Homo sapiens: one gene and its partners. The protein of the gene in region 1 interacts with the protein of each later gene in a pairwise test. Each region holds a gene or a part of one and is shown in the gene's direction. Other genes may lie near its edges. The genes, in order: FHL5, PLEKHA2, TXN2 and BANP.

Evidence for each region.
Region 2: the proteins of FHL5 (region 1) and PLEKHA2 interact in binary tests that used the Homo sapiens proteins (3 or more experiments, as listed by UniProt).
Region 3: the proteins of FHL5 (region 1) and TXN2 interact in binary tests that used the Homo sapiens proteins (3 or more experiments, as listed by UniProt).
Region 4: the proteins of FHL5 (region 1) and BANP interact in binary tests that used the Homo sapiens proteins (3 or more experiments, as listed by UniProt).

Annotation. Positions count from the first base shown.
Region 1 is NC_000006.12:96,558,585-96,566,129, forward strand, and holds the start of FHL5 (four and a half LIM domains protein 5), read left to right. Parts: upstream 1-4,543; 5' UTR 4,544-4,771; intron 4,772-7,545. UniProt on the Homo sapiens protein: May be involved in the regulation of spermatogenesis. Stimulates CREM transcriptional activity in a phosphorylation-independent manner.
Region 2 is NC_000008.11:38,897,509-38,904,363, forward strand, and holds the start of PLEKHA2 (pleckstrin homology domain-containing family A member 2), read left to right. Parts: upstream 1-3,837; 5' UTR 3,838-3,937; intron 3,938-4,255; exon of another isoform or gene 4,256-4,561; intron 4,562-6,855. UniProt on the Homo sapiens protein: Binds specifically to phosphatidylinositol 3,4-diphosphate (PtdIns3,4P2), but not to other phosphoinositides. May recruit other proteins to the plasma membrane.
Region 3 is NC_000022.11:36,466,539-36,471,664, reverse strand, and holds the end of TXN2 (thioredoxin, mitochondrial precursor), read left to right. Parts: intron 1-3,747; coding exon 3,748-3,861; 3' UTR 3,862-4,619; downstream 4,620-5,126.
Region 4 is NC_000016.10:88,003,425-88,010,455, forward strand, and holds part of BANP (protein BANP), read left to right. Parts: intron 1-870; coding exon 871-987; intron 988-2,665; coding exon 2,666-2,841; intron 2,842-7,031. UniProt on the Homo sapiens protein: Controls V(D)J recombination during T-cell development by repressing T-cell receptor (TCR) beta enhancer function. Binds to scaffold/matrix attachment region beta (S/MARbeta), an ATC-rich DNA sequence located upstream of the TCR beta enhancer.

The DNA of each region.
Region 1 (7,545 bases):
TGATTAGTAGTAAGACAATCTGGGTGTTTGTTTTAAGGAGCAGGAAAGACAGGATTACATTGATGGTGAAATGGAGGAAAGGGAGAACATGGTGAATTTATGGACTTGGCCTAATTTACTCGATCGTGTATGACAGCTAAATACTAGGAAGGCACATATCAACTTTAAAGGTATGTTTTACTTTCAAAGAAATAACAAGTCAATAATTACAGTTAAATATAGTGTCTTGGTAAAAGTACACAGAGGGTGTTGTGACAAGAAATGAAATTTAGACTGTGTTGCACAATGGGGAGGCTGGAAATAACACCTGAACCAAGAGTCCAGAGAGAAAAAAAGAAGGATTAGCCTTGGTGAAAATGAGAGAAGGGAAGGAGAGCATATTAAGGCAGAGAAAAGGAGGTACAGAAGTACTATGACGCTAATTAGAATGAAATAATGAGATGTGGGGAGCCAAGAAGTCTGAGAAATATAATAACTGATCTGGGGAAGTAGTGTAAGATAAAGTAGAGAGAATAGGGGGGTTTTGAAATGCCTTAAACACTAAGCTACAAAGTTCAACCACTATCTCAAAAACATGGAAGCCTTTAAAAGATTCAACTAACCAGGGAAATTAAGTAATTACATTTGTCTTCTAAAAAAATTACATTCTGGAAAGCAATTTGGCAATTTACCAAAATTCTTTAAAATGTACATATTATTCGTGAAATTAATGTCTTCCTTTTCTGAGAATTAAAATGACTAAAAAATGTATACGAGTCTTTTTTCCCAGCCTCTAGTAGAGAGGAACATGGACACCTTCTCTTGCACAGAAACAGGCCAATCTTGGCTCTGAAATAGTCTATTCAGATACTAGTCTGCCAAAGAAAAACTGCGATCTGACTAGTCAACCTAAGACAAAAGTCTCAAAGGTTGTCTCATGTTTTGTGTTACTCAATGTAAAGAAGTAAAAGTGCTTTGTCAAACTGTTTTACTACTGAGCCTGTCTTTACTCATCTAAAATGCAGTCCTTAACCTAATTCTATCATACAGACTTCAGAGTTGGGTAAGAACTTGAAGACTTGACACATAGAACATATTGTTGTTTAAATACAACCTAATAAATGTAAATGTACTTAAAGTCAATGTTCTAGATTTTTCTCCTTTCCTCTTTTCAGTCTTAATCTCAGTCCTGTGATTTGTATGTTTTAAATGCTGAGTGTATCTTTTGGTGTTGAAAAAAGAGAGAAAAAAAAGGAGAGCTATTCCATTATGTATTTTATTACATAGCAACTATTTGTTATAGCCACTTTAAAAATATTTTATTGGCTTGTCCATCAGTGAATGACTGGATAAAGAAAATGTGGCACATCTACACCATGGAATACTATGCAGCCATAAAAAAGGATGAGTTTGTGTCCTTTGCAGGGACATGGATGAAGCTGGAAACCATCATTCTCAGCAAAGTAACACAAGAAGAGAAAACCAAACACCACATGTTCTTACTGATAAATGGGAGTTGAACAATGAGAACACATGGACACAGGGAGGGGAACACCACGCACCGGGGCCTGTTGTAGGGTGAGGGGCTGGGGGAGGGATAGTATTAGGAGAAATATCTAATGTAAATGATGAGTTGATGGGTGCAGCAAACCAACATGGCACATGTATACATATGTAACAAACCTGTATGTTGTGCACATGTACCCCAGAACTTAAAGTATAATAATAAAATAAAAAATATTTTATTGGCTTGGAAAATTACAGTATATTAAGTGAAAACAAGGATACAGATTTATAATGGGGTTCAGGATGCACTACGCTAAAATATGGCACCTTGGTGTTTGAGAAAACTCCAGAAGCAGGAAGATCATTCCCACCTTCCCTTTACCCTTCTCTCCCGAGGCAGGTCATAAGACCCTCATTCAAGAGACCTCCCTATGCCTGGAAGAAAGGAACACAAAGAAGAGTCTAAACAAACAGGCCTTGCTAAGTTCCCCCGAGTGTATAATCATTAGACTATATCCCCTTTGTCCAGTCATACTTTTCCATGACTATCCACTCTTCATCAAATCTAAGCATAAAAATACACACGTTTATCTCTTGCTTTGAGTCTTCATTTCTGAAAGGCTCCCATGTCCCATAAAAACTTACATTAAATAATTTGTATACTTTTATTAATTTGCCTTTTTTTATAGGGGCCTCAACCATAAACCTAGTAATGGAAAAGAAAAATATCTCGCACTTTCTACAAGTATATACAATGTGGTCTTGGTTTTCTAACTAAATATACTGCATAACTATGTTATGCAATATATTTACAAAAAATTTTAGCATTTCTCTGTATCATTAATATATGAATGATACAAAGCCTAAAGAGGTACACAAAGATTTGGTCTGGGCTGTCTTGGATTGCAAATCATTTTACATTTTACATTTTCTGTATATGTTTTCCAGTTTCTGTTCCAGATTATCTGCAAGAAGCATGTATTTTATAATTTAACAAACTTATTTAAAAATAATATTTTTCTATAGAGAAGGATAGAAAGGGATCAGGCTGAGGCAGATGCCAGTTATTTTATGGCTGACAGAATAATCTGAGTGAGACATGTGAGACATGGAATGCAGGGGTGAGGACAAATTTGAGAAAGATCATTTAACAAACTAGAACCTACAGAAGGTGGACAATGATGGGGATGGTGGAGGATAAATGAGGAAAGGGAATACTCTAACATAAGGGGTGGATGATTGTGCCATTCCCTGAAGTAGGAAATACAGCAAACTAACAAGTTTGGAATGGGGAGAAGACAATAAGGATATTTGGGACTGTTGAGTTTGAGATGGCTGGGGACCCCTAGACAAGGTTTTCTAATAGATAGCGGGATACAGGTCTGGAACCTTGAAGAGTGGTATCAGATGAAAGTACACATTTGGGAGTCATGTTGTATAAAATTGTTCATTGTTTTGATGAAGAACGTGATGGAAAGTCTGCAGAGAAGCATACTGAACAGAAGATAAAGCTCTAGGGAAGAGTGAGGTGAATAGAGAGAAAGTGAGGGTGCTAAGAGCAAACAGAAAATCAGAAGGGTGTAACATAGCAAAACCAAGGGAAGATAATTTCAGAAAGAAATAGACATGGCCAGAGATGAGAATTTTTCGGTAAGACTGAAGACCATACTCTTTGGGTTGCTAATCAAGGTTGTATATGATCTTAATGAAGCTTTTTTGGAGCGGTTCAAGTGAAAGACAGATTGCAATAAGTTGGGAGGGAGAAGAAGGCTCAGAATGTAGTAGGTTTGGAATGACTTGGTGGATGTAGATTACCCTCTCAGGAAGCATGGGAGCAAATAAAGAGGGTGATGGTCCCAGGCACTTTTACATCTCAAGGACTGCTTTCCTTGCCCATAAAACAAGGAAAATACAGGCAGTACCTGTTTAGCAATGGTGTCCTAAGGATTAAAATCTATTACTAATGAAATATACTTGTGTCCTTTTGCTGAATCCAAATTTATTGTTGTTAGTCGCCATATGTTCATTTTCATAATGTCTTAATCATTAAAGTCAAGTGAATAACAAAACATACAGTTAACTGGCTCTGCATTTCTCTAGCTCAAGTTCTTTGACTGTATATACCCGAGTTTGACCTTAGAAGATATTAACATTTCATTCCTTTAGCAGTTAGAACAAGGACAGTTTAAGTTTGGTCTGGGATTAAGGCAGAATTTCTTCTCTCATCCTGCCTTCCAAACTGAAGAAATGGCCTCAAATGGAGATTCTAAGAGAAAATGTCACTTGCCTTATGAATCAGTGTGCCCCACTGAGGATACCTATTATGGATTGGTTTAATATCCAAAAATTTCTTCAGATCCAACTCTTGACATCTCTGTCCACTTTTTGTGTTTTGAAGATTTCAAAAGACTCAATGAGTTTATGCTTTATGAAGTCATAGAGCCATGGATGTGATGTCACAATTGTGGCCAGCTCACCAGGAAGCAGGCAGAGCGGGGAAGGCTGAGTCCACACTGCAAGTCCAGAGAGCAGGGAACTACCTTGAGTATTCTACTCAAACTTATGTCTCAGAGTTCCCCAATTTCCCAAGAAGGGAGAGATAGAGGCCACAATCCAGGGGGCCATCTCTTAAGGTACCAATAATTTTGCAGGTAAGAGCATGGGACCTCATCCCTTTCCAGATGGCCTCAAAAGGAGATTCTAAGAGACAATGTCCAAAAGAAAAGCTCAGCGGTTCAGACATTTCTAACCTAAAAGAAGGGTTCTGATCACCACCAGAAAACAAAGAAAACAAAGCCAAAAACAGATTGAGGAAACAGAAAATACATCATCCTTTTAGAGTATTATTTTTATAAATATGCCCTTAATTTAGCCTAGTTAGTGGAAATTTCTCAAGTGTGTATGCGTCTGTGTGAACATTGTGTATTTTAAACTTTTTGGAGCTTAGCCAGATACTTCGAATGCTAATCCTGGCAGAATTTCCCTTTAAGGATGTCCTGCAGAGAATTTGTTACTCATAGTTTTAAGTAAAAATTGACAAATAGTGCTTTTTCAGCCCAGTAGGAGTCATGTACACGGTATAAGACTTGGAGGAAATGCAGGGACCCTTCTGTTTTCTCCTGCAAAGTTGAAAAAGCTGCATGCAGTTGGAAGGGATCTTCAGATGGTGCTGGTGACTTTCTGTTCCTTTTGGAGTTGACATGCATGTGGATTGGAGGAAAAATAATCAACATATATTCTCCTTTCGTACTGTTTAAATCACAGGAAGAAGCGGCTTTAAGACAAAGTGAGTTCTTTCCCCCAAATATTTCCTTTGTTTTGTTTTGTGGTATTTTGACTTCTCTAATTTTTTTTTAAGGATGAGAAATTTTTATAAACTTTCCAGTAACTACTTAAGAGAAAACTTTTGCTTGGCAAAAGTGTATGCCTTTTGAAGTTTCTTAGCCATTTTAGCTAAAGGTTATCAAATTTTATATGCTGAGCTTTTCAGATTTCTCATTCTTATAACTTGCATGTGGAGGTAACATAGGGGCCAGATAACTCCTTGGAATTGCCTCTTGAGTTTTTCTAATGGTCTTAATGTGGGGTATAGCTTTATTGTTGTAAAAAGAGGAAGAAGAGGAGGGCTCTTGAGATTTTATTTGGCTTAATTTATTTGAATGAATAACATTATCACTGAGCATATTTTATGACTAGATTTATATTTCAAGAGCACATTTTGAAGTCACTTACAGGTTTTAAGTAAAAGGAGTTAATGAGATTCCTGCTATTTTCAAGAAAAATCTGCCTACTTTCCAGAAGTGGGCATACAAAAATTCATAATCTTTAATTTTCTAAGGTTAAATTAAAATATCTGTGTTTCCAGCCCACAGAAATATATAATAGACTATATCAATCTAAAGTGCTACTTCTTGAAACAGAGGTAGTGTTATTCAGGCAAAAAGCATACATCCCATATGTGTTAATGCTTTCTCTCTCACTATTTTAGTCATATCCTCTTTGGTACCTATCATTCATTTGAAAACCAAATGCAGCTCCTCAGCTGTCATTTCAGACTTTAGAAAATTGGAAACTAAAAAGAATTATTAACAAAATGCATAGCTCTCATACATAAAATGTAAGGAAATCCTTGAGCCATTTTAGCCCTCATTTTATATCCACAATACCATCATGTGTAAATACTAGCATTTTTATTAGCAAAGCATATGGATTAAAATTTAACATAGGTATTGCAAACATATGTATCATACAAGATATTTCTTAACATATGTGTTATGATATATGCTTTAAGCCATAATCCAAATTGCTTTAAGGGGAAGGTAAACTCTAGTGTCTGTTTTCTACACTTGTTCTATTTATTCTCACATTATTATTAGTTGCCAAATCTGGGACTGTTCTACCTAAGCAAGAGTAGTAGATTTGTGTTTTAATATAACACCACCTCACTGACAAATTTACCTCTTATTTTTATTACACTTACCAACATTTTGAGTAAAGCTGAATTAATCTGTGTTTCTTACATAAGACTGGGTACTTTTCTACTATAATATTACAAATAAGAGTTTAGAAAATTTAGAGATTTAGAGAATATTTAGAGACAGATATTTAATTTGTCTGTTTTTATTTTTTCAATCGAGGGAACATGATCTCTTTAGAAATGAAAGCTGAATACTTGGGTTCGCATGGGAAGCTCTGAATCAGATATTAGTTAAACCAGCTTGCATTTCCTTGTTCTTGTAATTATCTTTTTCCTCTCCAATTACCATAATTTTTCTTGGTTACTTTTTGGTACCCTGAAAGCTCATTGAAGGAGAGGAAGAGAAGAAAGAGGTAGAGGAAGAGGAGGAGAAGGAGGACTCCTTTTTGCCCAACATGCCTCAAATCCCTGCAAAATAATCAGCTTGAGGCCAGGCACGGTGGCTCACTTCTGTAATCCTAGCTTTGGGAGGCCAAGGTCGTGGGGATCACTTGAGCCCAGGGTTCAAGACCAGCTGGGGCAATATAGGGAGACTCTATTTAAAATAAAAATAAATAATCAGCTTATTGATGACATACCCTAGTATTTTATATGAACTAGTAAAACATTCTTATGGGTTTGGGTTTACCTTATCCTCACCATATGTCTAAACTTTCACATGGGCTAATTACCCTGATTAGAACATACTAGGATATGTCAACAGCAAGGTTTACATTCATTAAATAAATAAAGCTAGAGAGTCTCTTTGAAAACAATAGTGTGATGTGGAGAACAGAGTCAAGGTTTTGAAGTGTCATTCATACTGAGTTTTCTATGAATGAGGGCAAGTGAGTTTGCCTCCCTACCTTAAAGATATAATTAAAACAGCTGTGTTATAGAATTTTATATTAGAATAATAATAACAGTAGTCATTTTTATTTTTTGTCTTCTCAAATTCTTCGGTTATACTTCCAGCACCAATGGACCTTAAATTTATCTCACTTGATTTTTAGCAAAGCTTTGAGCGATTCCTTTGCATATTCATTTTGCCAAAGGAATACTCACCAAATGGATCCTGAGTAGATTATTTTGATATATTCAGGTTGTCTCCTCCCATTTAAAAATATACCTTTTTGTATTTTTCCAATATCATTGCAATTATAATGCTCTAAAGATGGTGGTGTGGAAGTGGAGTGGAGAAATATGCTTCTTGGGCTTGTTCTCCAGCTTGATTTTGTTTAACTATCTCTTACAATTATTCATAAAACAATTTAAGTAACATGTCATAAGTCACATGACTTCTAAGATTTTTTTCTTCTTAAATTTTTTCTTTTTTGCTTTTATTAGTATTACTATAGACATGTAACTGTACATATCCATCAGGTACAATGTGATATTTGTATACATGTATATGACAAATTATCAAATCAGGGTAAATAGCATATTTATTACCTTATTTTTCATTTCTTTGTGTTGGGAACATTTACAATCCACTCTTCTAGCTATTTGAAAATATACAATAAATTGCTAATTATAGTTACCCTATAGTGCTATAGAACACTCAAACTTATTCCTCCTATCTAGCTGTATTTTGTATTTCTTAA
Region 2 (6,855 bases), on another chromosome or scaffold:
TGTTGAGCTTTATTTTACCTTGGTACAACAAGGGGGCTGAAATAGCTCACATGAAACGTCCTTTTTTGACATTCCTTTCCCCACAGGTACAGTCACATTCTCAGACATCAGGGCTGTTTATTGCACTGAACAAAATTAAAGTATAAAATTAGGCAACAGCAATACTGTACTTTCAAAATGTGTCAATGAAGTGATGGCAAAAGTAAACATAAGAAGCTAGACACAGCCAGGTGCGGTGGCTCACGCCTGTAATCCCAGCACTTTGGGAGGCGGAGGCGGATGGATCACTTGAGGTCAGGAGTTCGATACCAGCCTGGCCAACGTGGTGAGACTCTGTCTCTACTAAAAATACAAAAATTAGCCGGGTGTGGTGGCGCAGGCCTGTAATCCTAGCTACTCGGGAGGCTGAGGCAGGAGAATCGCTTGAACCTGGGAGGCGGAGGTTGCAGTGAGCCAAGATCATGCTGCTGCACTCTAGCTTGGGCAATAGAGTGAGACTCTGTCTCAAAAAAAAAAAAAAAAAAAAAAGCAGCAACAGCAGCTAGACACAGAAGGCCACATATATATGATTCCACTTATATGAAGTATCAAAAATAGGCAAATCTGTAGACTGGATGGAAAGCAAGTTAGTGGTGACCAGGGGCTGGGAGAAGAGAAGAATGGGAGGTGACTGCTTAATAGGTATGGCGTCAACTTTAGAAGCCATGAAAATCGGTTGGAACTAGACAGTGGTGAGAGTTGTACAACATTGTGAATTTACCGAATGCCACTACATATACACTTTAAAATGGTAAAATTTATGTCATGTATACTTTATCACAATAAAAAAGTGTCCCCCCAAAAAGAGAGAAAGGGATGGCAAAACATAGCAGGGCACAGACTCACTTGACGCCTGCTTCAAGGTGACATGAGAGGAGGGTGGGGGTGGGGGTCCCTCTGAGGAAGCCCTGGGAGATCCAGGAATAAGAGAGTGGACATTAGTGCAGGATTTGTCATCTAACTGGGGCCAGGTCCTGGCCAGGGACAAGTGTAGCAGTAAATGGGGCTCCAGTGAAGTATGAGCATCTCCCCGAGTGCACTGATGATGACCTTCCCTCAGCCCAACATGTTCCTGGCCTCCTCCCACTGGTGTCAAACTGTATCCATCTAAGTCCCATTTCAAAGCCCACTCCCTTCTTGAGCTCCCCCACCGTCCCCCCCCACCCCCCATCCCCCATTCAGAGACACATTTCCCTCTTTTTTATTTATTTTTTTTCTGAGACAGGTTCTCACTCTGTCACTCAGGTTGGAATGCAGTGGCATGATAATGGCTCACTGCAGCCTCAAAATCCTGGGTTCAAGTGACCCTCCCATTTCAACCTTTAGAGTAGCTGGGACCACAGGTGCATACCTGGCTAATTTAATATTTTTTATTTTTTGTAGAGATGAAGTTTCCCTAGTTGTCCAGGCTGGTCTTGAACTCCTGGACTCAAGGGATCCTCCTGCCTTGGTTTTCCAAAGTGCTGGGATTACAGGTCGTGAGCCACTGCCCCTGGCTATATCTTGTCCTTCTAAAAGTTGACAGCACTTACTCTCTGTGCCATTCCCAGGGCACAAGCCTGCTTCAGCCTTCTAGAGACACCTGTATTCTCTTGCCACCCAAGGCCTTCTGCTTCTCTTTGCCTCCCAGCATCCAAAACAGTAGTGCTCAGGAAATACTTGTGGCTCTGTGATGGAGTGACTCAGGCAGCCCCACGGGGAGTAGAGTTTTATGAGTTTAATATGAACCATACCCTGAAATCTGAGAAATTTACCTCATTGCTCATGCTGGAAACCCTCAGTTCCAGTCGGATTTGCTTGGAGCTGGATGGAATTGTGTTGCTTTTCATACTGAAAATGATCATCTAATTTTTAAATTTAAAAAACATTTACGTAGCACCTACTTCACGTTCGACAGGAATCTCAACACTTCACAAATGTTAACTCACTGACTTTTCCTAACAGAGGCATTGAGAAGTTAAGTAACTTGCCCAGGGGTCAAAGCCAGTAAACGGCAGAGCTGGGCTTCAAATCCAGGTTCCTTGCTTCCAGAGGAGATGCTCTTCAGTTTGTTCTGGTGCCTGAAACTTACAGATGAGTGGCAAAACCCTCCATGAACGGGGAAAAAAAAGACATTGATGTATTTATTTCAAGGGAAATGTGTGTGTGTGTGTGTGTGTGTGTGTGTGTGTGTGTGTGTGTGTGTGTTTTGCCCATCGTCCCCCTTTTCTTCCTCATTGAAAGCAAAATGCTCTAAAGCAAACAGTCTTTTTTCACACCTGAGACACCGGCGGTGTTCATTTTTGCTTTGGCAATCAAAATGGAAGAGGAAACTTGTGTGGTTTCATCACTGGTGCTTTCGGGGTGTGTGGGGCGGGCTGTCCTTCTCCCTCGGTCCTGGCTCATCGGCCCGAGCCCCCCTCCCCAGGCCTTGTGGCCTCCGGTCGGTCGTGGAGACATAAGAGGCCGCCTTTCCTCTGTTAACACCGGGAATGTGCCCCAGCCTCTCCCTCCTTCCTGCAAATCCAGTCCTTGTCCTGGAGAACCTCAGCGTCTTCTTATGCCTGCCTCTTTCAAAGCCTCGTAGGATTTACACCTGATTAACAACGTTTGCATTAGGATCGCCAGACACCGGCGCACGGCCCCGCAGGCCCGCGCGAATCTTCTACATTTTCATGTTTCGGATGTTGTCCACCTGACTTGATGCATATTCAAATGTCTCTCTCCCGACGTGGGAGGCCGGAGTCAGAACCTGACAGACCTGCCGTTTACTAACTGGGTACCCAGGGCAAATTACTTCACAAGTCTGAGTCTCGGTTTCCTCACCGTGAACCGGACTGGTACCCATAGGTTGCGGCGTGGATCAAATGAGATAGCGCAGGGGCGGGACCCGCGCACAGCAGCTCTCTTAGTTCCTCTTGGCGAGGTTTACGTAGTAACACATGCTTGTCTGTTTCCCATTTTTTCCCAGAGCACCCTCATGCTCTGGGGGCAGGAAGGGAGTCTTCGCATCACACCGAAAAAGTCCCAACGGGCACGGTGTAGGCGCCTGTGGTCCCAGCTACTCGGGAGGCTGGGGCAGAAGGATCGCTGGACCCAGGAGGTCGAGGCTGCAGTGAGCTATGACTGCGCCACCGCACTCCAGCCTGGGCGACAGAGCCAGACCCTGTCTTGATTAAAAAATAAAATAAAATAAAGAAATTAAAGTCCTTATAACCCTGGTTAGAGCGTTCCCGCCCACTGGTCTCTTAGGGCACATTTAGGACAACCTGAAGAAGCCACTCTTCTTGGGACCCTAACCCTTACCCCAACTCCTCGGTCCCCAAAGGCTAAGGGCTCGGGATCCGAAGGAGGCCCAGCTGAGGTCGCTGGGTGGGGCTCTGGGAGGAGGAAATGGGGTTCTTGAGGGAGCTCGCGCTCCAGCTCGCCTCCTCCTGCGAGGACGCCCCCTGCCCGGACACCTGCTGCCCGAGCGAGCGTCGGGGCCGGGCCTCCCCGCGGGGCAGTCTCGGCGCGCAGGTCCCACCTGCCAGGCGCGGAACGCGGGCGGCCTCGGGCGCAGCCTCCGGGCGCCCCGCCCCCGCCTCCCCCGCGCGGCCCCGGCGCCCGGCCGCACCCCCTCCCAGCCCGCGGCGCCCCGGCACCCCTCTCCCTCCCCGGCGGGCTCCGCGGAGCATTGTACTCACATCCGGGGCTGGGTTTTGCTTTAATGCGAAACGTAATTAACCCGGAAAAAAGAGCCGAGGGACGGGAGAGAAGGAGGGGGCACTGGGGGAGACCAGAGCGAGGGGAGCGAGAGGCGCGGAGAGTTTGGCAGGCAGACCCAGAAATCCCTGGAGCGCGGCGGACCCGGCGGCCGGAGGGGCGACCCCGCCCGATGTAACGCGCCCCGCCCGAGCCCCGGCCCCTGCACGGGGGGGTAAGTTGGGCGCCCTCGCGGGCTCGGGAGTGGAGAGGCGCAGAGGGGCGCGCGGGGGCTGGCGGGGCTGGGGGTGCAGGGGGCGCCCCGGCGGAGGCCTGGCGGCCTAGGGGCGCGAGGGGCGCGCGCGCAGGGCTGAATACGCCGGTCCTAGTGGCTGACAGGCGAGGGGAGGTGGCCGCAGACCCTGGAGGCCTCCTCCAACCCTCTGGGAGAGCCCCGAGGGCAGCCCCTCCTCCAAGTGCCCCGGGTGGCCAAGGTCGCCGCCGCCAGGGGTCGGGCTGCGGGGGGTGGGGCCGCGGAGAGGGTGGGGGCGGGAGTTCTGCTGAGCTGCATTTTCTCACGTTTGCAGCAGCGAAACTTCTCTGCGGGTTCTGGCGCTGGGGCACCGACCCCGCAACGACTGCCCGGGCTGCGGGAGGGGAGGAGAGCAGAGAACGTCCCCAGGCAAGTCCCTTGGGTACGGATTGGGCCATGGAGACTCCTCTTTCACTCCCCCGACTACCTTATTAAATGACAGGCCTAGAAGGCTCCCCTAGGGACTCCTGTCCTTTCCTCTGGGTGCAGCCTGGACTTCGGGCTTCTGGAACTCCAGACAGTGAAAAGGACTGCCCTAAAATGCAGGTTCGGTGCCAGGTTGGGTGAGCCCTCGAGGGGAGCTGTCGTTCTCTCTCTCACCAACTTCTTCCTCACCTTACACGCTTCCCTTTTCTCCTCCAGTCCTAAAGACGATTTCACCAAAATTTTTTTAAAAAGAAAGAGAAAAGAAGGGTGTGGGGGGGGGTGGTGGGAAGCTAGGCCGTTTAGAAGGGAAAAGTGTCCCTGCACGCCCAGAGAGGGGCGCAGGGCCCGCTGCGGCCGGAGCACCCTCACATCTCCTCCCCGGGGCCAGCCCTGCCCCCAGGCCCTAGCCTTAGGGTTTGGCTTCCTTCCTTCTTGGTGAACGCAGGTTCAGGATGTATCTTCCCCTTCTCATTCCTTCTTCCTGCCCGCCCCCTTTCTTTCTTTAGGGCTCCAAGTGGGGTTTTCAGAGGACAGTAAACGGCAGAGAAGAGGGAGGGGAGAGCACCCCACCAGAAAGCCAGCTGTGGCTCTGGGGGCTCTGAAGGCTGAGCTGTAGATGCACTTGGGGCTGAAGTCCCAAGATTGCACTAATGGTGTTCTTAATCTATCTGACCAAGTCCCATTTTCCCTTCTTTTGTCATTTTTTTTCTTTGGTTGCGAAGCCTTCCGAAACAGCAAAGCAAAAGATCTTGAAAGAATAGAAGTTTTTGCTTTCTATTTCAGTTGCATTCAGTTGACATGTATTATACATGCAAGGCAGTGATGAACAAAACACAACCCCTGTCTTTATTTTTTCTTTTTCCTTTACCTCTGGAGGGCTGGACCCTGTCTTTGGCGAGCTTACAGGACTTGTAAGCCCCCCACTTGTTTTGAGAAGCCAGAGTAAGCTTTTAGAAAGCATCATCATCATCTCAGACATTAGCCCTCTTCACCATGTGCCGCCTGAAGGCAGATGACTTTTGCACTATCAGAGGTCTAGCTTGTAGTCTAGATTATGGCCAGCCCAACGTATGACATGTACCAGGTGCTAAGTAAATGTTTATTGCATTAATGAATGAATGCAAACACATGAATTGTTTGCACTTGTCCAAATGGCAGAGAAAAGAGCAGTGTGGTTGTTCCTCAAACCTGTAGGGATTTGGTTCTCCAAGCTGGTACATGGGAGTTATTAGTCCGGATGTTGCCTTTACACCTAAGTATCCTTTGACCCTGTTTGTACATTACAGCATGCTTTCTACAAATTGTCTATGGCACTCCTAGTGGGGTTTTAGCTAGCTGGTAATGGGAGCCTTGCTCATTTCACAGATTGGTAATTACCTTGGTATTGATTGAGAAACTGCCTGCCCTTTGGTGAAGAGTTTTTGCAACCCTTTCTTTTTCCTTGTCATTGGTGCTTTCTTCTCTCTTCTGTGTTAAGGAAATAGGGCCTGCAGATCCCATCATGTCATGGTAGTGAGCTGAACCATATTCAGCTCGGTATTTTTGAGTGGTTAAAATAAATCTTGAAGACATGCAGGTTTTGGTTGGTGCAGGTTTTTGTTCTGCAGAAGTGGGAAGGGGAAGGCTGATGAGCCCTATCAGCTGAGCCCCAGAGCAGCCCTCCCACTACCTTGCCAAGTGTTTGCCGAAGTGCTAGGATACTAGGAAGACCCAAGCAGCGTTGGTCTCCTGTCCAATTCATGGGACAGATGGACAGGTGGGTGATGCCCCTGCTGAAAGGCTGGATGACTCAGATGAGAGCTTGCTGCAGACCACAGTGCATCAGAATATCTCTTCTGATTCACGGAAACTGCTGTGGCTCGACTTATTCCGGTTGTGATAGACCTAGGGCTTGGAAAAGAGGATCTGGGTGCTGGGACGTTGGGTTGCTCTGCCCCCTCTCTTTTTCCACCATGAACAGTTTGGGTTGCCTTACTTTCCGTTTTCCATCTGTCTCAGTGAGCTGGATGGGACTCCAGCAATCTAATCTGGTAGGCTTTGGAAAGGAAGGAAGGAAAGCAAATATTATAGTGTGTTGGCCTATGGGAAGAGAAGAACCCTGGCCCTGCCTGATATGAGCCCATTATTGAGATGGGGTATTGGACAGGCGGGGGAGATAGGGCAGCTGAGAGGTGGGAGGGATGCGGCCCCATCCTGTCAGTAGAGGAGGCCGGGGGTTGGTGTAGTGAGACCCTACTGTTCCTTCTGAAAGCCCCTTCCCTGCCCTGACCCCAGTTGACTGAAGTGATTTGTTATGCATTAAAGCCGGAATTGGGCTTTCTCACTGTGGAGGTCCCAGCCCTGCTGGGGCAGGGGCTCCTGATATTGCCCAGTGTGGGCAAAAGGCTTGGGGGCTTTGGCCCTGTGGTGTGCCT
Region 3 (5,126 bases), on another chromosome or scaffold:
GTTGCTCACCCTTTGAGCCTCAGTATTCTCATCGTTAAAATGATCCTGCCCACAGCCAGGAGAGTGTGAGATAGTGTATAGAGGTGTTTATATCATTCCTGACACGAAAAAGCACCCAGCATGTGACAGCGATCTTTTCCTTTTAACTCTGCAATGAGCCGAGGAGGAGGTTGCAACATCCCGCAGCACCCAGCACTGTGCCTTTCCCTTGGTAGGCCCTTAGCTGAGTTAACAGATGGATGCCATCGGGGTGGGACAGGAGAAGACATACCAGGACACGGAGCTCAGTGGCGGTGCAGGCGAGCTACGGGTTAGCAGAAAGAGACTGCGCACACGTACACACTCCCCCACTCCTGCCGAGTTCAGAGGGTCTTTATCCAAGGATAGGAGGTTCCAAGTGGCTTCACGGAACAGGACAGGCAACACGTCGTAGCGTATCTTTTCCTCAGCCCCTCAGTTGGCTCAGTCACTGCCTCTTTCACACTCAAAACATTCCAGAAGAATGTGCCAAGGCCCTGTGCACTTCCATGTAAGGCAGTGTTTACAGGCACCGGCACCTCCTGATGTGTGAGCCAGACACAGGAGCAGCAGAGCTTCAGCCGCCTCCTCAGGGTCGAGGGAAGTCCCATTCCAGCTCAGGTTTCCTGTGAGCCCCTAGTGCGGGTAGTGTGTATGTGTGTGTGTGTATATATGTGTGTATGCGTGTGTGTGTTTAAGCTCAACTTCAAAATATCCCCTTGATCAGTAGTGACCAGACCTCCATTGACAGCACATCTGCTGTCTACCTGACACCAGCAGGGTCTGTGCGTGTTCAAGCATGTGTGGAGGTTTACATGAGTGAGATCATTATGGCCTTCATCTGGAGTTCTTTTTTTTTTTTTTTAATATTTTTATGGAGACGACGTCTTGCTATGTTGCCCAGGCTGGTCATGAATTCCTGACCTCAAGCAGTCCTCCTGCCTTGGCCTCCCAAAGTACTTGGGATTACAGGTGTGAGCCACTGTGCTTGTGCCTATCTGGAGTTCTTAAGGAACGCTAAGTCCACTCTCTGAGCCTCTTCAGTGAACTTAGAGTCTTGCCGTGAAAAAAGTTAGGCCACTTCTTATACAGTGGCATAAAGCATATATTTTAATTAAAGGAATAGGACAGTGTGCAGGTGGGAGCCGGTGGCTGAGCTCTCTGCTTCTGCCAAGAGGCTCCGGCTTTGAGGCACTCCAGCTGCCTTTGCAGACCACTAGAGGGCACCAAAGAATGCCTGGGAAGGCCCTGGTGGCTTCAGGCGCTTCCTGGAGCAAACTCTTTCGGGCCCTGCTCTGCCTGGAGACAGGGTTTGCCACCCACATCAGCCCAGGGACAGCCTTTGAAGGGGCCTGAGGCACTAACAAGGACAAGGACTGTGTCCTGTGACCTGCTGTGTTTGTCCCCAAAGTGTCCGTGAGGAGTGGGGTGCAGGGCCTGCCACGTAAAGTTAGTGGGTGAGGGCGGGATGGTCTGGCCTGCGTGCCTTTCCTAACTACCATGTGCATGGTTTTTGAACATTCTGAATCTTACTGGCTTCCAAGATGGGCCGTGGCAGGGCAGCACTGGGATATGTGAAGACCTGGTATGTTTGTGTGAATCTCTGCTCTTACTTTGTAGTTTAATTTGTATGTAAGAAAAGTCTGTGTTTATCTTGTTCTGTTTATTTTTATTTATTTATTTTGAGGGGGGGAACAGAGTCTTGCTCTGTCGCCCAGGCTGGAATGCAATGGCACAATCTCAGCTCAGTGCAACCTCTGCCTCCCGGGTTCAAGCGATTCTCCTGCCTCAGCCTCCCGAGTAGCTGGGACTATAGGCATGCCCCACCACGCCCGGCTAATTTTTGTATTTTTAGTAGAGACGGGGTTTCACCATGTTGGTCAGGCTGGTCTCGAACTCCTGACCTCAAGTGATCTGCCCGCTTTGGCTTCCCAAAATGCTAGGATTACAGGCGTGAGCCACAGCGACCGGCCTATCTTGTTCTGTTTAAATGGTTTTCTCAAATGCCCACGAATGCCAGGCAGGGATCCCAGGCAGCAGAGACCTCACAATGCCAGTCTGGTGGGCCACAGCCTCATCCACGTTCCACATAACCTATGCAGGTCCCTGAGGGAACTGAGTAAATGCTTCACAGACCAAGAATGTTGTCCTTGCCATCTGCCTGCAACCTGCTAATAAGCGTCAGGTTGTGTATGGCCAAGCCTCTCCTCTCATGCTGTCCAGTAGAAGTCCCTGAGTTTCTGGACCCTGTCACTCATCACAGCAGCAAGCTAATGTGCTCTCGTGGGGCCTGTGTTGGACTTTTCCTTGTGCCCTCTGTAGCCACTGTTTTTTGAATGCCCACAGTATGCCAGGCACAATGCCAGGTTCCTAAGCTTATTTGCCGGGCGCTGTGCTGAGCCTTTACTTGCGTTATTTCATTCAGCTTTCATGCCCTCTAATGGCAGTGCCCTTAGTATCTCCATCCTGCATCTGAGAACACTGAGGCTTAGTGACTGAGGGGCGTGCCCCAGCTCACCTGGCTGGTAGGAGCCGGATTGCGTCCGCCAGAACCTGAGCTCTGCTTTATTTATGTATTTATTTATTTATTTATTTATTTATTTATGAGATGGAGTCTCACTCTGTCACCCAGGCTGGAGTGCAGTGGTGCAATCTCCACTGACTCCAGCCTCCACCTCCCAGGTTCAAGCAATTCTCTCACCTCAGCCTCCCAAGTAGGTGGGATTACAGGTGCCTGCCACCATGCCCGACTAATTTTTGTATTTTCAGTAGAGACAGGGTTTCACCATGTTGGCCAGGCTGGTCTCGAACTCCTGACCTCAAATGATCTGCCCACCTCAGCCTCCCAAAATGCTGGGATTACAGGTGTGAGCCACCGCGCCCAGCCTGAGCTCTGCTTTATACTCAAATCTTTCTCTTTTTTTTTGAGGCAGGGTCTCTGTCACCCAGGCTGGAGTGCAGTGGCACAATCACAGCTCACTGAAGCCTCAGTCTCCCAGGCTCAAGCGATCCTCCTGCCTCAGCCTCCCGAGTATGGGAGTACAGGCATGTACCACCATGCCTGGCTAATATTTTGGGGGGGTTTAGTAAACAAAGGGTCTCACTATATTGCCCAAGCTGGTCTGGAACTCTTGAACTCAAGCAATCCTCCAGCCTCAGTCTCCCAGAAGGCTGGGATTATAGATATAAGCCACTGTGCCCAGCCTATACTTGAATCTTTAATGTTCATCCCAAACCCTAAAGGTAGACATTACCCCCATTTTATGGAAAAGGACACTGAGGCTCAGAAAGGTGCTGTGACCCGGCCAAGGCCCCCTTGCTAGTGAGTGCAAAGCCAGGACTCGAACTGTCCCCCAGCTTCTGTCTCCTCCTGGGCCAGGCTTCCCCTGAGCTCCTCCCTGCCCCCAGCCCTGGCCTGCAGCTGCAAGGGTTATTTTCATCTCTCCTGTCATTCCAGCAAAACCACTGGGCCAGTGAGTCAGTCTTGTGGTTAAGGGAGGAAGGGTACTGTTGGGAGCCCGCAATGGAAGACGTTTCTTCAGCGGGTGGCCCCCGGGCCCTGCAGTACCCCTGCACCGAGAGAAGAGCCATGTTCCTCTAGGCCTGCCCATGGCTTTGGGAAGTCAGTGCCCTGGATAAGCCACCAGCCTTCCCCACAAAGGCTCAGGAGTGGCAGTTGAGAAGTATTCACTCCCAATTCACTTGGACCCCCTTGTCCTCTCCACCCAGGTGTCAGCGGTGCCCACTGTGCTGGCCATGAAGAATGGGGACGTGGTGGACAAGTTTGTGGGCATCAAGGATGAGGATCAGTTGGAGGCCTTCCTGAAGAAGCTGATTGGCTGACAAGCAGGGATGAGTCCTGGTTCCCTTGCCCGCGTGGGACCCCAATAGAACTCAGCCCTTCCATGCCAGCCCTTCCTGCTGCCTCCCTCCTGTCTGGCTCCTGGGGCCCATGCTTAGAGCCCAGGCTCCAGCCCTGAGTGCTTCCGAGCTGGCGGACTGCCCAGGGGCCATCAGAGGATGGTGGTGCTGCTGCTGATCCGGGGACCGCTGTCTTCCCTCCCATACGCCTTTCATCCCTCCTTCTAGGGCCTATGGCAGTTCTCCCAGGATGTGTGGCGAGAGCCTGGGCCAGCCCACAGCGTTCCTAGTCAGGCAGCCACACCTTGGTCCTCATCTTGGTCCCTTCCAATCTGAAACCTCGTGCCTGGCTCGTCTGCCACCTACATTTCTCTTTCCAGCTGCTGTTTTGTAAAAAGAAAAAGAAAAAAGAAGCCCAAACTAGTGAGAGTAATATCTAATTATCTCATTTTTTGTAGGTCTGTGATAAAGAACTTAGTCATCCCTTCCACCTCCTACTGTGAAGAACAGACCCTGGGTCCCACACTGAAATCCCCTCTAGTCACCCATTCCCACCCCCCAGGGAGCTGCCTCCCAGGCAGGGGGTGCAGAAAATGATTGATGGGCTGGGGAACCCTGGAGAGCCTCGACTCCGGAAGTCTCAAGGTGCCTCCTCCTCTCCTTAGCTGGCCCGTTGGTTTTCTGAGCAGGGGGCTGAACTGTGAACAAGTCAGACAAATAAAGCAAGGGTCTGCACCATCTGCAATGTCACATCTGTGTGGGCTCAGAGCACTTGTCACCCTTTCCCAGGGGGCTTGTCCACTGTCCCCACATCCTCCCCTAACTCCACAACACTCTCTCCAACCAGCCCTTCCTGTTCACTAACATGCTTGTCAGCAGTGGCTGCTATTCTAAGGATGCCATGTGCCAGTCCTCGTGCCCTCCTAAGGCAAGAGGCTGTTGTCCCCATTACCCCGATGTAGACACTGTGGCTCATGGGATGCAGAGCTGGGGTTTCTATCCAGACGTGGTTGCCTCTGAAACCTGGGCTCCCACAGCTGATCCCCTTGACCCTTCTGAGGCCTCCCCAACTGACAGGGCTCCTGGCTGCCCCAGCAGGTGCCTGGCCCTGTGGGGATCAGGCTATCCTTCCCATGGGTGCCTGCAGGAACTTCTGGGCCTTGGGACCAGACAACCCCTCTTGGCCCCCAGCTCCCCTTGGCCATAGAGGAGTGTGCCAAGGGAGCCAGGCTTGCCAGTCAAGAAAG
Region 4 (7,031 bases), on another chromosome or scaffold:
TTTATTGTCAGGTGATAATCACGTTGTGTTTCTAGTGCTAGTTCTTTCTCTCCCCAGCCTTCCACAACAAAGCGGACCTTAGATATCCCTTGTGACCAGAAAGTGCTAAGGCTTAAAAACGCATGATTGAAAACTGTGGGTGAGTCTGTACTTTGAGATGAAGCTGTGTTAGCTGCCGCCTGTCTGAACACACTCGTGCTTCCTCCAGGGTGGCGCCAGGCTTGCTGGTTTCTGGGCCATGGTCTGTTCTTTTGTAGAATCTTTTCCTTCAAAGCAGAACCCTGAGCCCTTTGGTTGTAGCTCACACATGTTCCTGCAGGACCTGGAGGCAGCATGTGTGTCCTTCCATCCCAAGTCCAACGTGATGTTTGCCCCTTTCTTTCCAGGGCGCTACCGTTTTGGAATGATACCAACACTTACGTGGTTACGAACGTTAGATCTGTCCCATAGGAATGAGTTGGGATGGAGTGACTGAAAATGTCAAGCCAGTTCTCATGCAAGTGTGCCACCCTAGAAGCTTTATTAACTGGGTGCGATAACAGCTGGTGCGGTTGCAGTCTATTCTGTCACAAGTTCAGCATCCTCAGCCCAGCTGTCCTGTGCTATCCAGTTGTGCAGACAGATCACCAACAATTAGGAAAAGTTACGTTCTGCTAAAAACCCCATCTCCAGTTTATTCTTCCTTAGCATTTGGGGCTCCTTCCCCCTCAGGACGGGTCCCTGGGAGTGGACTATGTTGAATGACTCTTAGGCCTCCCCCTCAGTGCGGGTCCCTGGGAGTGGACTGTGTTGAATGACTCTTATGTGCTCTTACCATGAATGTTGTTGTTTTAAGGCCTTCTTTTTCTTTGTGATTCTTTTGTTCCCTAGCGTCGTCCCCCAGACTACAGTAATACTCAACAATGATCGGCAGAACGCCATTGTAGCCAAGATGGAAGACCCCTTGAGCAACAGGGCACCGGATTCCCTGGAAAATGTCATTAGCAAGTCAGTAGCACGGCACCAACCCCACCTTTCCCTGCCACTGTGCGGAGTCCCATGAGAATAAGTCAACGTCCCTAAGCCAGGGCACAGTCCAGCACACGCTTCATCTCTGTGGTCACAGGGTTGAGCCTGGCAGGCACCGCCCCAGCTCTCTGAGGTCGGGGAGGGCAGGCTGGGCGATGCTGAATGCTGAGTCCAGCCACACCAGGGGCAGCTGCCGCCGGGGACTTCTGTGTCTCGTGCTGGCCGGGGTTGTGGAGGGGGCTGGCTCTGTCTCCTCACAGCAGTCTGTGAAAGCGTTCATCCTCCCACCTAGCTCAGTGGTCCTCACGTCTGTCTGTGCAGAGCGTGTCAGGCAAACAGACGCCCTCTCCCACGGTTGCTAAGTGGTGCAGGCATGTTGAGTTTATGACTTTTTTCTTATACCTTTTTCTCTTGAGACATTTTGAATGGAACTTTGGTCAGAGGTGGGAGTGGACAGAAGACACCGTCCCCGCTCTGTGTGAGGGGAAGGCTGTGCAGTGGCCTCTGGCTGGCATCCAAGCCCTGCTGTCCCCAGGAGTGCCCCTGGGGCTGCGTGAACCCCTGAGGATGCTGTTGCTTTTTCTTTCCCATCTGTGTCTTCACAAAGTTCTATTTGCTTTTTCTCTCAGTCTCCTTTGTGGATTCCTCCTCCTCCAGCTTCGTCCCCTTTCTGTATTGTCTTAGCTCAGTTCTCCAGGGCCGCAGCTGTGGTCGCAAGGGTCTGATACGTGGGGTGAAGGGAGAGGAGTTGGTGATGGGCGGTGAGGAGGTGCCAGGGTCAGCTGTGCCTCAGGGGCTTTGCACTGAGGTCAGCCAGGCAGATGGCCAGTGTTGAGATCAGGTTCAGCGTGGACAGCGCTCTAGAGAATCCAGGCCAGAAAGTGCAGAGTGCAGCGCCCTCCTCTGGGTGCGGCCAGTGTTTTCAACACCCTTTTTTTTGACTTTGCATATAGAGAAATTGTGCTCCTTTCTCCTGCTGGTGCGTAGCAGTCCACGGTAGAGGATGTTGAAAGGGTCACTAAAAAAGGGAAGTAGTAAGTCTCTAAATCATCCTTTTTTTTGAGCACTTGTGGAGGTGGCCTCGCCCTGCTTTGCTAGCAGTGTTCTGTCCTTCCACATCAGCAGCCCTTGGGATGATGGCAGCTCCGATGGGATCTCAGTGGGTTTTTTAAGCCCCGTCAGGGTTTTTTGCCCGTGGGCGTACGTGGGAGTGCTGCTCGCATTGCGAGGGGGAGCCATCTCCAGCGAGCCCAGCAGCGTGGATCGAATTGACCCAGGCCTCTGGGCACAGTTTTCCTCATTTAGTCTTCCCTTTAACCTCGCCGGAAAAAAGACTCTTACCAGCATTTTATGGGATGACTACTGAACTCAGAAGGCAGCATGCTAGGCCTGAGTCCCAGTGAGTATGATTTTACTCCTTTTGTGATACAAACATTTTCTTTAAATGGTTAAGTTTTATTTTATACAGTTTCTTTCAGCCCCAGGCCATTTTCTCCCATGGAGTTTCTATTAATCTTGGTAGAGAGAGCAGTATGGGAAGGCTGTGTGATCCACTGGTCCACACAGAGTTAGATTTTGCGATAAGGAAAGCGCTGACCTTCGCGTGCTGCTTGCGGCTCTTACCACATCGGGCTGGTGTGTTTTTTTTCCCGTTTAGCGCTGTGCCTGGGCGTCGGCAGAACACCATTGTGGTGAAGGTGCCGGGCCAAGAAGACAGCCACCACGAGGACGGGGAGAGCGGCTCGGAGGCCAGCGACTCTGTGTCCAGCTGTGGGCAGGCGGGCAGTCAGAGCATCGGGAGCAACGTCACGCTCATCACCCTGAACTCGGAAGGTGCGTCCAGGGCGGCTTTCCTCGGCCAGAGCGCCAGTACAATTGTTTGTTTGTTTTGCCTTTTAGAAATTTTGTTGTTTTTTAAAGAAGTGATACAGTGGCCAGGCGCGGTGGCTCACGCCTGTAATCCCAGCACTTTGGGAGGCTGAGGCGGGCGGATCACCTGAAGTCGGGAGTTCGAGACCAGCCTGGCCAACATGGAGAAACCCTGTCTCTACTGAAAATACAAAATTAGCCGGGTGTGGTGGCAGGTGCCTGTAATCCCAGCTACTCGGGAGGCTGAGGCAGGAGAATCGCTTGAGCCTGGGAGGTGGAGGTTGCGGTGAACCGAGATCATGCCATTGCATCCAGCCTGGGCAATAGAGGAAACTCCATCTCAAAAAAAAAAAAAAAGTGATACAGTATAGGACAGGCTCAGTGGCTCACACCTGTAATTCCAGCACTTTGGGAGGCTGAGGCGGGTGGATCATGAGGTCAGGAGTTCAAGACCAGCCTGGCCAAAATGGTGAAACCCCATCTCTACTAAAACTACAAAAATTAGTTGGGCACGGTGACAGGTGCCTGTAATCCCAGCTACTTGGGAGGCTGAGGCGGGAGAATTGCTTGAACCTGGGTGGCAGAGGTTGCAGTGAGCTGAGATCGCACCACTGTACTCTAGCCTGGGCGTCAGAGACTCTGTCTCAAAAAAAAAAAAAAAAAAAAAAAGATAGTGATACAGTATAAACATGAAGATTAAAGGGAAAATAACTGTGATCCCACCATTCTGAGATCTCTAAACCTTTTGGGGTTTTTTGGTGCACATTTTATGATTTTATAACTCACTTCTTTCCCCTACACAGTAGAAATCTTTCCACGTTAGTGCAGATGGACAGAGTCATTTTTAGCCAGTTTTGCTTATTTCATCAGGTCTGGATGCTTTCCAGGGATGGCCCCCTCTAACCTTTCGTTATTGAAACTAGCATTGGCCTGCTGTGTTTTCATGTCTCTTGGATCAGTGTCTGGACGTGGGCTCTCAGAGGCAGGTTGCTGGGCTAGAGGACGCAGCTTCCACGGGTTCCATGGCACAGGATGCATTGCCCATTTCCCCCGAGATCTGGAAGGATGTGAAGCTGTTTGTCCTACTTGGACTCCTAGCGGGGGCCTCTCTCCTGCAGGGCTCTGAGGTGCCCTCCCGCCTGGCCCTCGGCCTGCCCAGTGTGCCTTTCAGAGCCGTCTTCCCCTGAGAGCCTCTGTGTGCCCTTCATCCTGTCACCGTAAGTGACCAGATGACTGTCAGTGACTACAGCGTGGAGAAAAGAAAGAACCAAACAGACTTAGCTTTGTGCGTGGAGTTGTAAAGCATGTGTTTTCCTTGCTTACTAGGAAGAACTCAGTTTTTCTGCATCTGCGTCTGAGTTGTTGATTTTTCCTAGCAACTCGATGTTGCTTTGTCTAGTGAACAAAGGCTTTCCTGTTAGGAAGACTCATTACCGTATCTGAAACATTGAAAACAATGTCTTCCACAAAAATTGCTTTTACCTCTAATACAAATTGCTAGGATTCAGATGGCAGAATGGAGGGAAGAGAGAAAGAGACGTTGAGTTGATCTTTTTTTTTTTTCCAAGTTGAGATCTAATTTATATACCATAAAATTGACTGTTTTAAAGCATACGTCTCAGTTGTTTTTAGTATATTCTCAAGGTTGTACAGTCATCACTTCGGACTAATTCTAGAATATTTTTTATTACCCCCAGAAGAAGCCCTGTGCCCATCAACAGTCACTTTCCATTCTCCCAGCCTCCAGCCCCGGCACCCAGCTCATCTCCGTCCTCGTGGATGTGCCTGTTGTGGACCTTGACTCTAAATGGAATCCTGTGGCATCACCCACATTGTAGCTTTTGCCCAGTGCTTTGTTCCTTTTCATGGCTGCGTGATGTGCCGAGGTATGGATGGCCCTCATTCTGTTGATCCATCATCAGTTGATGGGCATCTGGGTGGTTTGCACTTTTTGGCTGTTGTCAGGAATGCTGCTGTGAACGTTGAGGTGCAGGTTTTTGTGTATGTATTAATTGCAGGATCAGGGCAATGGAGTTTTTCACACATGAAATTTGAGGAAAGGAGGGATGCTCCTGATTTCATTTTCATAGAAATTGAAAATCACATTGCAGTAACGACAGACTAATTGTTGTAATTATTTTTGGATGTGGATTTTGTATAAATCCCCACATAGATCTGGCCACCCCCTTCAGGCCTGATGTTTGTTTGATTGAAACTGTGTTAGCTAAGGCAAAAAAACTTGGTAATTCTGGGGAGTCCAGGGTCATAAAAACAAAAAAATCTAAATGAACTTATGAGACGATATCAAATTTGGAGCTTACTTAGTATTGATCTGTATCTATAAGGAAAAATACAAATTTTCTTTGTGTCTGAGTTTAAGTTTTTTTGATGTTTTGTGTAAGACATTTTTCTTTAGCTAGGCTTTGAGCAGAGTTTTATAGCCATCTTTACCACTGATTGTTCTCATCAAACATAATTTTGCTGTACAACACAGGTTGTTAGGATTGGGGTGAACTGCAGAACTTTTTCTCATCTTAAATTTGACTTTATTTTGAAGGAGAGGTCATCATCCAGAGCCATTCTGTTTTCTCATCCCATTAGGAGGAAACATTTTTTGTAATAAATCTGTTTCACTGACTGTCCTTGGGAATGTATATCCCAGTGGGGTCGGTGTTATGAAAATATCTGCTTGAGCTGCCTTATTTGGCATAGTGGCTTGGTGAAAATGAGGAAGTCACCTTTAAATGATTGCTGTGTATGTAAATGTTGGGAAAATAGCCAATCCATTAATGTCTCTTATGTCAGATTTAATCTCAGCCCGTAGTGGCGTCCTCTCTTCAGCACTTCCATGGGGGGTGCGAATGTGCCGAGAATGGGGCCAGCATCTTCCTGCCTGTGGCCCTCTGTCCCAGAGCACCTGGGCAGGTGGTGAATCAGCGAGTTTCTACGAGGGAAAGCATTAGGAATATGGGAAGTGCTAAAGGGGGTGTGCTTGTCTTTCTATTTAGTTGTTTTAGGCCCTGATAAGAAATAGGAGCCGCAGGAGACAGATTGTTCTTAGCTTCTTATTTAAGTATTTAAGTGCCTTAAGTCTTAGAGAACCACAGATTTCAAAACGGTTATTTCTTAAGAATTCCAAATGGCTTGTGTGAATTGACATGCTGTTTTGTATCAAATTTGGAGTCAGTTTATTGTACTGCAAAGATACCATATCATTTTATTCTAGTTTTTTTCACTTAGGTAATTCCGTTTGTCATTACACACGCTCCACTGGAATAAGAAGGATGGTAACTCTCAGCTATTGAAAGCAGGGAACAGTAGACTGTGTCTCATTGGAATAAGAAGGACGGTAGCTCCTGACTGTTGAAAGCATGGAACAGTAGACTGTGTCTCATTAGAATAAGAAGGACGGTAACGCTCAGCTATTGAAAGCAGGGAACAGTAGATTATGTCTCATTAGAATAAGAAGGACGCTAACTCTCAGCTATTGAAAGCAGGGAACAGTAGACTATGTCTCATTAGAATAAGAAGGACAGTAGCTCCTGACTGTTGAAAGCAGTGAACAGTAGACTGTGTCTCATTAGAATAAGAGGGACTGTAGCTCCTGACTGTTGAAAGCATGGAACAGTAGACTGTGTCTCATTGGAATAAGAAGGACTGTAGCTCCTGACTGTTGAAAGCAGGGAACAGTAGACTATGTCTCATTGGAATAAGGACGGTAGTTCCTGACTGTTGAAAGCAGGGAACAGTAGACTGTGTCTTCATTCTTGTGCTTGCCTTTTGTCAGTAGTTTTGGTCTTGGTGTGCTCATAGCTTTGTTTTGTACTTGAAAGTGTGTGGGGCCTCATCATTCAATGACTAAGCTGCCAGCTGAGTTAGAGAAACAAGTTGAGCTAAAATGGACCTAGCATGGGATCTGTTTGTCCATTAAGGGATTTAGTTAGGTTCTTAATCAAGAGTTTAAATTTCTGCTGTGTATGCATTTGATAATTCTTACAAAACGTGACTGATCCTATACATAAAATGTTAGGTACTTCATTTCAGTGGGGGAAGGATTGTGGTTGAATTCTAATTGAATTATTGCCAGGAATTGGTCCCATGGACTTCCCAGGCAGTAGAATGACTTACGTGGTAGCTCTTGGTGATGCCAGTGA